Linked DNA regions of Homo sapiens. The protein of the gene in region 1 purifies or fractionates together with the protein of each later gene. This does not show direct contact. Each region holds a gene or a part of one and is shown in the gene's direction. Other genes may lie near its edges.

The links. The genes of interacting proteins can lie anywhere in the genome.
Region 2: the proteins of DBF4B (region 1) and CDC7 purify together in Homo sapiens (affinity purification with mass spectrometry; 5 studies listed by BioGRID and IntAct, with this or other methods). This does not show direct contact.

What each region holds. Positions count from the first base shown.
Region 1 is NC_000017.11:44,725,663-44,729,421, forward strand, and holds part of DBF4B (protein DBF4 homolog B), read left to right. Parts: intron 1-3,759. UniProt on the Homo sapiens protein: Regulatory subunit for CDC7 which activates its kinase activity thereby playing a central role in DNA replication and cell proliferation. Required for progression of S and M phases.
Region 2 is NC_000001.11:91,510,692-91,514,450, forward strand, and holds part of CDC7 (cell division cycle 7-related protein kinase), read left to right. Parts: intron 1-905; coding exon 906-999; intron 1,000-1,089; coding exon 1,090-1,232; intron 1,233-2,366; coding exon 2,367-2,616; intron 2,617-3,256; coding exon 3,257-3,352; intron 3,353-3,759. UniProt on the Homo sapiens protein: Kinase involved in initiation of DNA replication. Phosphorylates critical substrates that regulate the G1/S phase transition and initiation of DNA replication, such as MCM proteins and CLASPIN.

The sequences.
Region 1 (3,759 bases):
TGCCTTTGTTTTTTTGTGCTTCTTTTTTTTTTTTTTTTTTTTAAGAGGGGGCCACACTCAGTCACAGAGGCTAGAATGCAGGAGCGCGGTCATGGCTCACTACAGCTTCAACCTCCCCAGACTCAGGTGATCCTCCCGCCTCAGTCTCCCTGTAGCTGGGACTACAGGTGCTCGCCACCATGCCCTGCTCATTTTTGTATTTTTTGTGGAGGCAGAGTGTCGCCATGTTGCCCCAGACTGGTCACGACCTCCTGGATTCAAGTAATCCTCCCACCTCAGCCTCCCAAAGTACTGGGATTACAGGCCTGAGGCACTGCTACTGGCCCTTTTTCTTTCTTTTTTTTGAGACGGAGTCTTGCTCTTGTTGCCCAGGCTGGAGTGCAATGGTGCGATCTCAGCTCACTGCAACCTCCACCTCCCGGGTTCAAGCAATTCTCCTGCCTCAGCCTCCCAAGTAGCTGCAATTACAGGCATGCACCTCCATGCCTGGCTAATTTTGTATTTTTAGTGGAGACGGGGTTTCTCCATGTTGGTTAGGCTGGTCTCGAACTTCTGACCTCAGGTGAACCACCCACCTCAGCCTCCCAAAGTGCTGGGATTACAGGTGTGAGCCATCGCACCCGGCCCTTTTTTATTTATTTATTTATTTATTTATTTATTTATTTATTTATTTTTGCCTTACCCAGTTGCCTGCAAGAGGGAGCTGAGGGCAAGGCTGGGAGGGGCAGGGCAATGCTTATTTTTTTTCTAGCTATGATCATGAGTACTTTTTTTTTAATTTTAGAGACAGGGTCTCGCTGTGTTGGTCAGATTGGTCTTTTACTCTTGGCGTCAAGCAATCCCCCCACCTCAGCCTCCCAAAATGTTAGGATTACAGGCATGAGCCACAGCATCCAGCTGGCGTTAGTACATTTTTATTATCAATTTTTTACCCATAACCTTAAAGCGTTAGCACTTTTCTACCATTATTGCCCTTCATATGCATCATTTGCGGTGGGAATATAATATTCTTTTGAGTGGATTATTAATTTACTTAACTGTTGCTCTGTGGACATTTAGACTCTTAATAATTTTTAGCATTTAGAAATAACACAGGTGAACAACTTTGAGTAAAAAGCATTTGCTATATTTGATTCCATTAAAATATTTTTAGGGGCTAGGCACAGTGGCTCACACTTGTAATCCCAGCACTTTGGGAGGCCGAGGCGGGCGGATCACTTAAGGCCAAGAGTTCAAGGCCAGCCTGGCCAACATGGTGAAACACCATCTGTACTGAAAATACAACAATTAGCTGCGTGTGGTGGTATGCGCCTGTAATCCCAGCTACTCGGGAGGCTGAGGCAGGAGAATTGCTTGAAACCGGGAGGTGGAGGTTGCAGTGAGCCAAGATCGTGCCTCTGCACTCCAGCCTGGGCAACAAAGCAAGACTCCATCTCAAAAAAAAAAAAAAAAAAAAAAAACCATATATATATTTAGGCTAGGCTCAGTGGCTCGTGCCTGTAATCCCACTTTGGGAGGCTGAGGTGGGCAGATCACCTGAGGTCAGGAGTTCTACACCAGCCTGGCCAACATGATGAAACCTTGTCTCTACTAAAAATATAAAAAAATTAGCAGGGCATGGTAGCACGCACTTGTAGTCCCAGCTACTCGGGAGGCTGAGGCACAACAATCGCTTGGACCCGGGAGGCAGAGGTTCTAGTGAGCCAAAATTGTGCCATTGCACTCCAGCCCGGGCAACAGAGCAAGACTCTGTCTCAAAAAGAAAAAAAAAAGAAAACAGCATGATAGTGCTTGACCCAAAAGAGACTAATAACTGGGGAAACTGGATGAATAGGGCTTGGAATGGAGAGGCTCTTTGCTGTCAAACCCAGAAACTCAGGACTGCAGAAACTCAGTGGTGAGGATGGATAGAATGAGGATTATATAACCAAACTGGCCCATAATTACATTTTGAACTTTTAGTCCTTTCTGTCATTTAGCCTTTGCTATGTAAAACACCAACCCTACTTGGGCTTAAAGCAACAATTTATTTTCTATTTATTTATTTATTTTTAGACAAAGTTTTGCTCTTGATGCCCAGGCTGGAGTGCAATGGTGCGATCTTGGCTCACTGCAACCTCCAATTCCCAGGTGCAAGCGATTCTCCTTCCTCAGCCTCCAGAGTAGCTGGGTTTACAGGTGCCTGCCACCATGCCCGGGTAATTTTTTTTTTTTTTTTTTTTTTTTTGTACTTTTAGTGAAGACGAAGTTTCACCATGTTGGCCAGGCTGGTCTCAAACTCCTGACCTCAGGTGATCCACCTGCCTTGGCCTCCCAAAGTGCTAGGATTACAGGCATGAGCCACCACACCTGGCCAAAACAACAATTTATTATTTCTCATTATGCTGTGGGTTGGCTGGGTGGTTTATCTGGTGGTTTCAGCAGGGCTCACTCCTGAGGCTGGATTCAGCTGGACGGTCACCTGGGCTGGAAAGACCAAGATGGCCTCACTCACACATCTGGCACTCTGTGTCAGTTATCATAACTATATGCAATAAGCTAAACTAGCTGATTTAACATGGTGGTCTCAAGGCCACCTTCCCAGAAAGTGAGGCAGGAAGCTAAGGCCTCTGAGGCCTAGGCTCCAGAACTCACACATCATAATTTCCACATGTTCTATTGGTCCAATCGAGTCAGATTGAAGGGCATAAAAAAGTAGGTCCCACCTCCTAATGGCAGGAAGAGCAAAGTCATATTGCAAAGGAGTGGGTATACTGGGATGGGAGGAGGAATATATGGTCATTAACAATCTCCTATATTTATATAGGATAATCATTGATTGCCCTACTCCTACCCTCTAGCATTTGCTTTTGCTGTATTAAAAAAGGTAGATGCAGCCAGGCACGGTGGCTCACACCTGTAATCCCAGCACTTTGGGAGTCCAAGGCGGGCAGATCACAAGGTTAAGAGATCGAGACCATCCTGGCCAACATGGTGAAACCCCATCTCTACTAAAATTACAAAAATTAGCTGGGCGTGGTGGCATGCGCCTGTAGTCTCAGCTATTCGGGAGGCTGATGTAGGAGAATTGCTTGAACCTGGGAGGCGGAGGTTGCAGTGAGCTGAGATCGCATGACTGCACTCCAGCCTGGTGACAAAAAAAAGGTAGATGTGATCAGACACGGTGGCTCACACCTGTAATCCCAACACTTTGGGAGGCCAAGGTGGGCAGATCACTTGAGGTCAGGAGTTCCAGACCAGCCTGGCCAACATGGTGAAACCCCATCTCTTCTAAAAATACAAAAATTAGCCAGTGTGGTGGGACACACCTGTTGTCCCAGCTACTTGGGAGGCTGAGGCAGGAGAATTGCTTGAACCCGGGAGGTGGAGATTAGAGTGAGCCGAGATCATGCCACTGCACTACAGCCTGGGAGACAAAGTGAGACCTTGTCTCAAAAAAAGAAAAGAAAAGAAAAAAAAAGGTAAATGTAATCCTTCAATTCATAACTAATTTTTTTAATAGTGGTAAAGTGTATATAACATAAAATAAGCCATTTTAGCCTTTTTTTTTCTTTTTTTTTTAGAGACAGGATTTCACTCCCCAAGCTGGAGTGTAGTAGTGTAGTCATAGCTCACTGCATCACTGAACTACTGGGCTCAAGTGATGCTCCTGCCTCAGACTCCCAAGTAGCTAGGACTATAGGTGCATGTAACAACACCCAGCTAATTAAAAAAAAAAAAAATTTTAGAGACAGGATCTTACTATGTTGCCCAGGCAGG
Region 2 (3,759 bases), on another chromosome or scaffold:
TTACAATGCAGTCAGGCAAATTGTCTTCAGGCTCAGCTTCCATTGTGTTATATTTTCCTTCCTTCTGTTTTGTTTCTTCCTTTCCACTTAAATTGCTGTCTTAAAAATTACCAGTTAATTATTCTTTGCCTAACTAAAAGCCTTCCCTCAGTTGTTATTCTCTTTGACTTCCATGCTAATAACTCTTCCTTCAAAATTCCTTTCTTATTTGGCTCTCTAACTTGGCTTCTTCCAAGCTCAGTTTTCTTTTCTCGCTATTAATTTTCATGTCTGTAGGTATCACTTCTCTGCAGGTACTCTCACTGACTTCTCACTTGTCTTCTCACTTAAGGCTTAGTCCCTTGTCTAGATAACTCTATCAAAATGATGAGGTCTGGTTTTAGATGCTTCTTTTACTGGCTTCTCTACTCATTTTTTGGTATCTCTATTGTTTTCTTACTCAGGCTCAAAATCATAGAAATCACCTTTGTCCTATTTTCCTCTTTTATGAAGCAGTGTAACATAGTGATTAAGAACATATATCTGGAGCAAAATGCCTGGGTTCAAATCCTGGCTCATTGATCTATTAGTTTAGTGACCTTGATTTATTTATTACTGTTACCATCTTATCTGCTAAGTCTTATTAATCTTTTCCCTTTTTTCTCATTCTGCTGCTTCCCCAGTCACAACTATAATTACCTCGTTTGAATTATTATAGTAACTTCAAAACTGGTGCCATTTTTGTTTTAAAAGAAAACTTTAACACGAGAACACAAGTCACTTGTGTTTATATTATGTGATGATGATTTAAGTCAGTTTTCTAGCAATATGTATGCATTGCTAAAATTGCGGTTTTTAAAATTAGGCATAAAGTTTCAGTCCCTCTGACCTTTCTTCTAAAAGTTCCTTGTGCATTTTTCCACTAGGGGGCAAGATAATGTCATGGGAGTTAAATACTGCTTTAGGAAGAATGATCATGTAGTTATTGCTATGCCATATCTGGAGCATGAGTCGTTTTTGGTAGGTTTTAATATTTCTTGAATTTTTATTAGCTAAATATTTAATTGCAAACAATATTTGTAACTCATTTCATTTGTAACTTTGTTTTAGGACATTCTGAATTCTCTTTCCTTTCAAGAAGTACGGGAATATATGCTTAATCTGTTCAAAGCTTTGAAACGCATTCATCAGTTTGGTATTGTTCACCGTGATGTTAAGCCCAGCAATTTTTTATATAATAGGCGCCTGAAAAAGTAAGTATGAAGAGTTACTAGAAAATATTTATCCTATTTCTTTTAAAAAACAATTTTATTGTCTATATTTAAGGTATTGAACATGATGTTATATATAGTACAAAAGTTACTATTGTGAAGCAAATATTTATCTCAGTTACCCATCTTATTTTTGTTTTTACGGCAAGAGCAGCTAAAATTTACTCATTTAGTATGAATCTCATATACAGTACAGTTTTATTACCTGTAATCTTCAGAGTGTGCATTAGGTCTAGATTTATTTATCCTACATATCTGCTACTTTGTATCCTCTGACTTATATCTCTTAGATATAATATAACATACTGCAATAGCCATGCACAGATTATTTCTGTTTCAGTTTCTTTGTGATTGGAAAGGGAAATTTGGTGATGAAGAAGATAAAATTGTATTAGTGGAATAATGTACATTATTAGATGTACTATGGTTCAGTGGAAATAGCATGAACTAACAGACTTAGAGTCTAATAATTTTTGACCTTAGACATGTCTCTTATCTCTGGACTTCATTTTTCTTTTCTAGTAAGTGAGGGGATTGGACCACATGATAGCCAATTTCCTGTTTTAACACAAAAGTTTTATTTTTATGTATACTTTTTAATGCTGATTATAATTATAGAGAAATTATAAGCTAAAAATAACATAAATACCTCTATATAATGGATCATATTAAACATAATAATATTATAACTTCTTTTTTGAGCTTTTATATGCCTGACTTTTTAATTTTCTTTAATTGGATCAGATTTTAAAACCATGATTTTAATTTTTTTAAGCTTTCTTAACTAGAAATTATCTGCTATGATGCCATCTCTGCCACCATCAGAGAACAACGGACTGTGTTTATGTTATGTATTCCTCTTCTGCCTTATTAACACAGACCACTGGAAAAAGAAAATTTGATTGTGGGACAACTCTTAATTTTCAATCCTGGTTAGCTGTTAAATTCTTACTTTGTCTGGAAAACTTATTTTTTTTTCTTTTTTCCAGAATGTTATAAATTCCTAATTGATCCCAAAAAGAATTACAGTTTTTATGAGGATGGTTTGAGAGTATTACAATGTTACTAAGCTTTAATTGCTACAGATAAGTAAAAATGCTTAATTTTGTCTCTTAGGTATGCCTTGGTAGACTTTGGTTTGGCCCAAGGAACCCATGATACGAAAATAGAGCTTCTTAAATTTGTCCAGTCTGAAGCTCAGCAGGAAAGGTGTTCACAAAACAAATCCCACATAATCACAGGAAACAAGATTCCACTGAGTGGCCCAGTACCTAAGGAGCTGGATCAGCAGTCCACCACAAAAGCTTCTGTTAAAAGACCCTACACAAATGCACAAATTCAGATTAAACAAGGAAAAGACGGAAAGGTTCTATCTCTTTTATTTCTTAAGTACCGACACTGTTTTAGAAATATACTCCTTCAACCAACAGAGGGAGATAGAATACTAGGATAGTACTTATAATTTAAAAAACTTTTTTTTGCATTTGTTATATGTATTCATTTGATTAAATTTTCACTAAGATTTGTACTGAATCATTTTGGTTACTATTTTAAAACTAAAATTTACTTTGTCAGTTTATAACATCTGTCATTAACTATTATGAAATCATATTTTATGACAAAAATGGAAAATATTAAATTTTCCCTGCATGTTAAAAAGTTCAGATTAATTATCCTTTTTAAAAGAAAGCATTAGTTATAGGGGAGGAATTCTGAAGTGTCTATCTCCATTTTAGCTGCACAGCAAAATGTAACATCCATGCAGGTGGTTTTTGAATTTTTTTTTAGTTATATATATTTGTGGACTATGATAACATTGTATGGGTGTTGAGTTCTGTCTAGACTATTTTCTCCTTTCACAGAAGTGGTTTGGTGCCTGAGAATGACTTGGATGCAGCTGTTTTTGTTTCATCTCACTTAACTCTTTCAAAACTATGGCAGAGTACAGCTGGCAGAAAGTGTTACAGATATAATCCTTATTTTCCTTGTTTTTGTTGGTATTGTAGGAGGGATCTGTAGGCCTTTCTGTCCAGCGCTCTGTTTTTGGAGAAAGAAATTTCAATATACACAGCTCCATTTCACATGAGAGCCCTGCAGTGAAAGTAAGTAATGTAGCTTAATAGCATAATGGTCAGTCAGTCATACACTGAAGAGAATTTAGGTAATAACTAGATTAACATTTATTATCAGAAATTTTTTTAAACTAGAGTTTGGCTTTGGCAGAAGGTATTACTGCTTTAAGCATTTAGTCAAAACTTGTTTTCTCCAGTTTTTTTCTGAACTTTTCTGGTGGAATTTTTTCTCATTTTTGGTTAGCTATTACTGTCTTTCTCTAGAGGAACATTTAGAACATTAAGGGCTTTCTGTCATTGCTAGAGTGTGAGCTCCATACAGTTAGCTAACTATTCTGACACATAGTTGATAGTGTAAAGATGTTTGTAAAGTTAACAAAATCATCATCAATGTAGATGATTTCAGATTGACTTATGATATCTTGTGACAGCTAGAC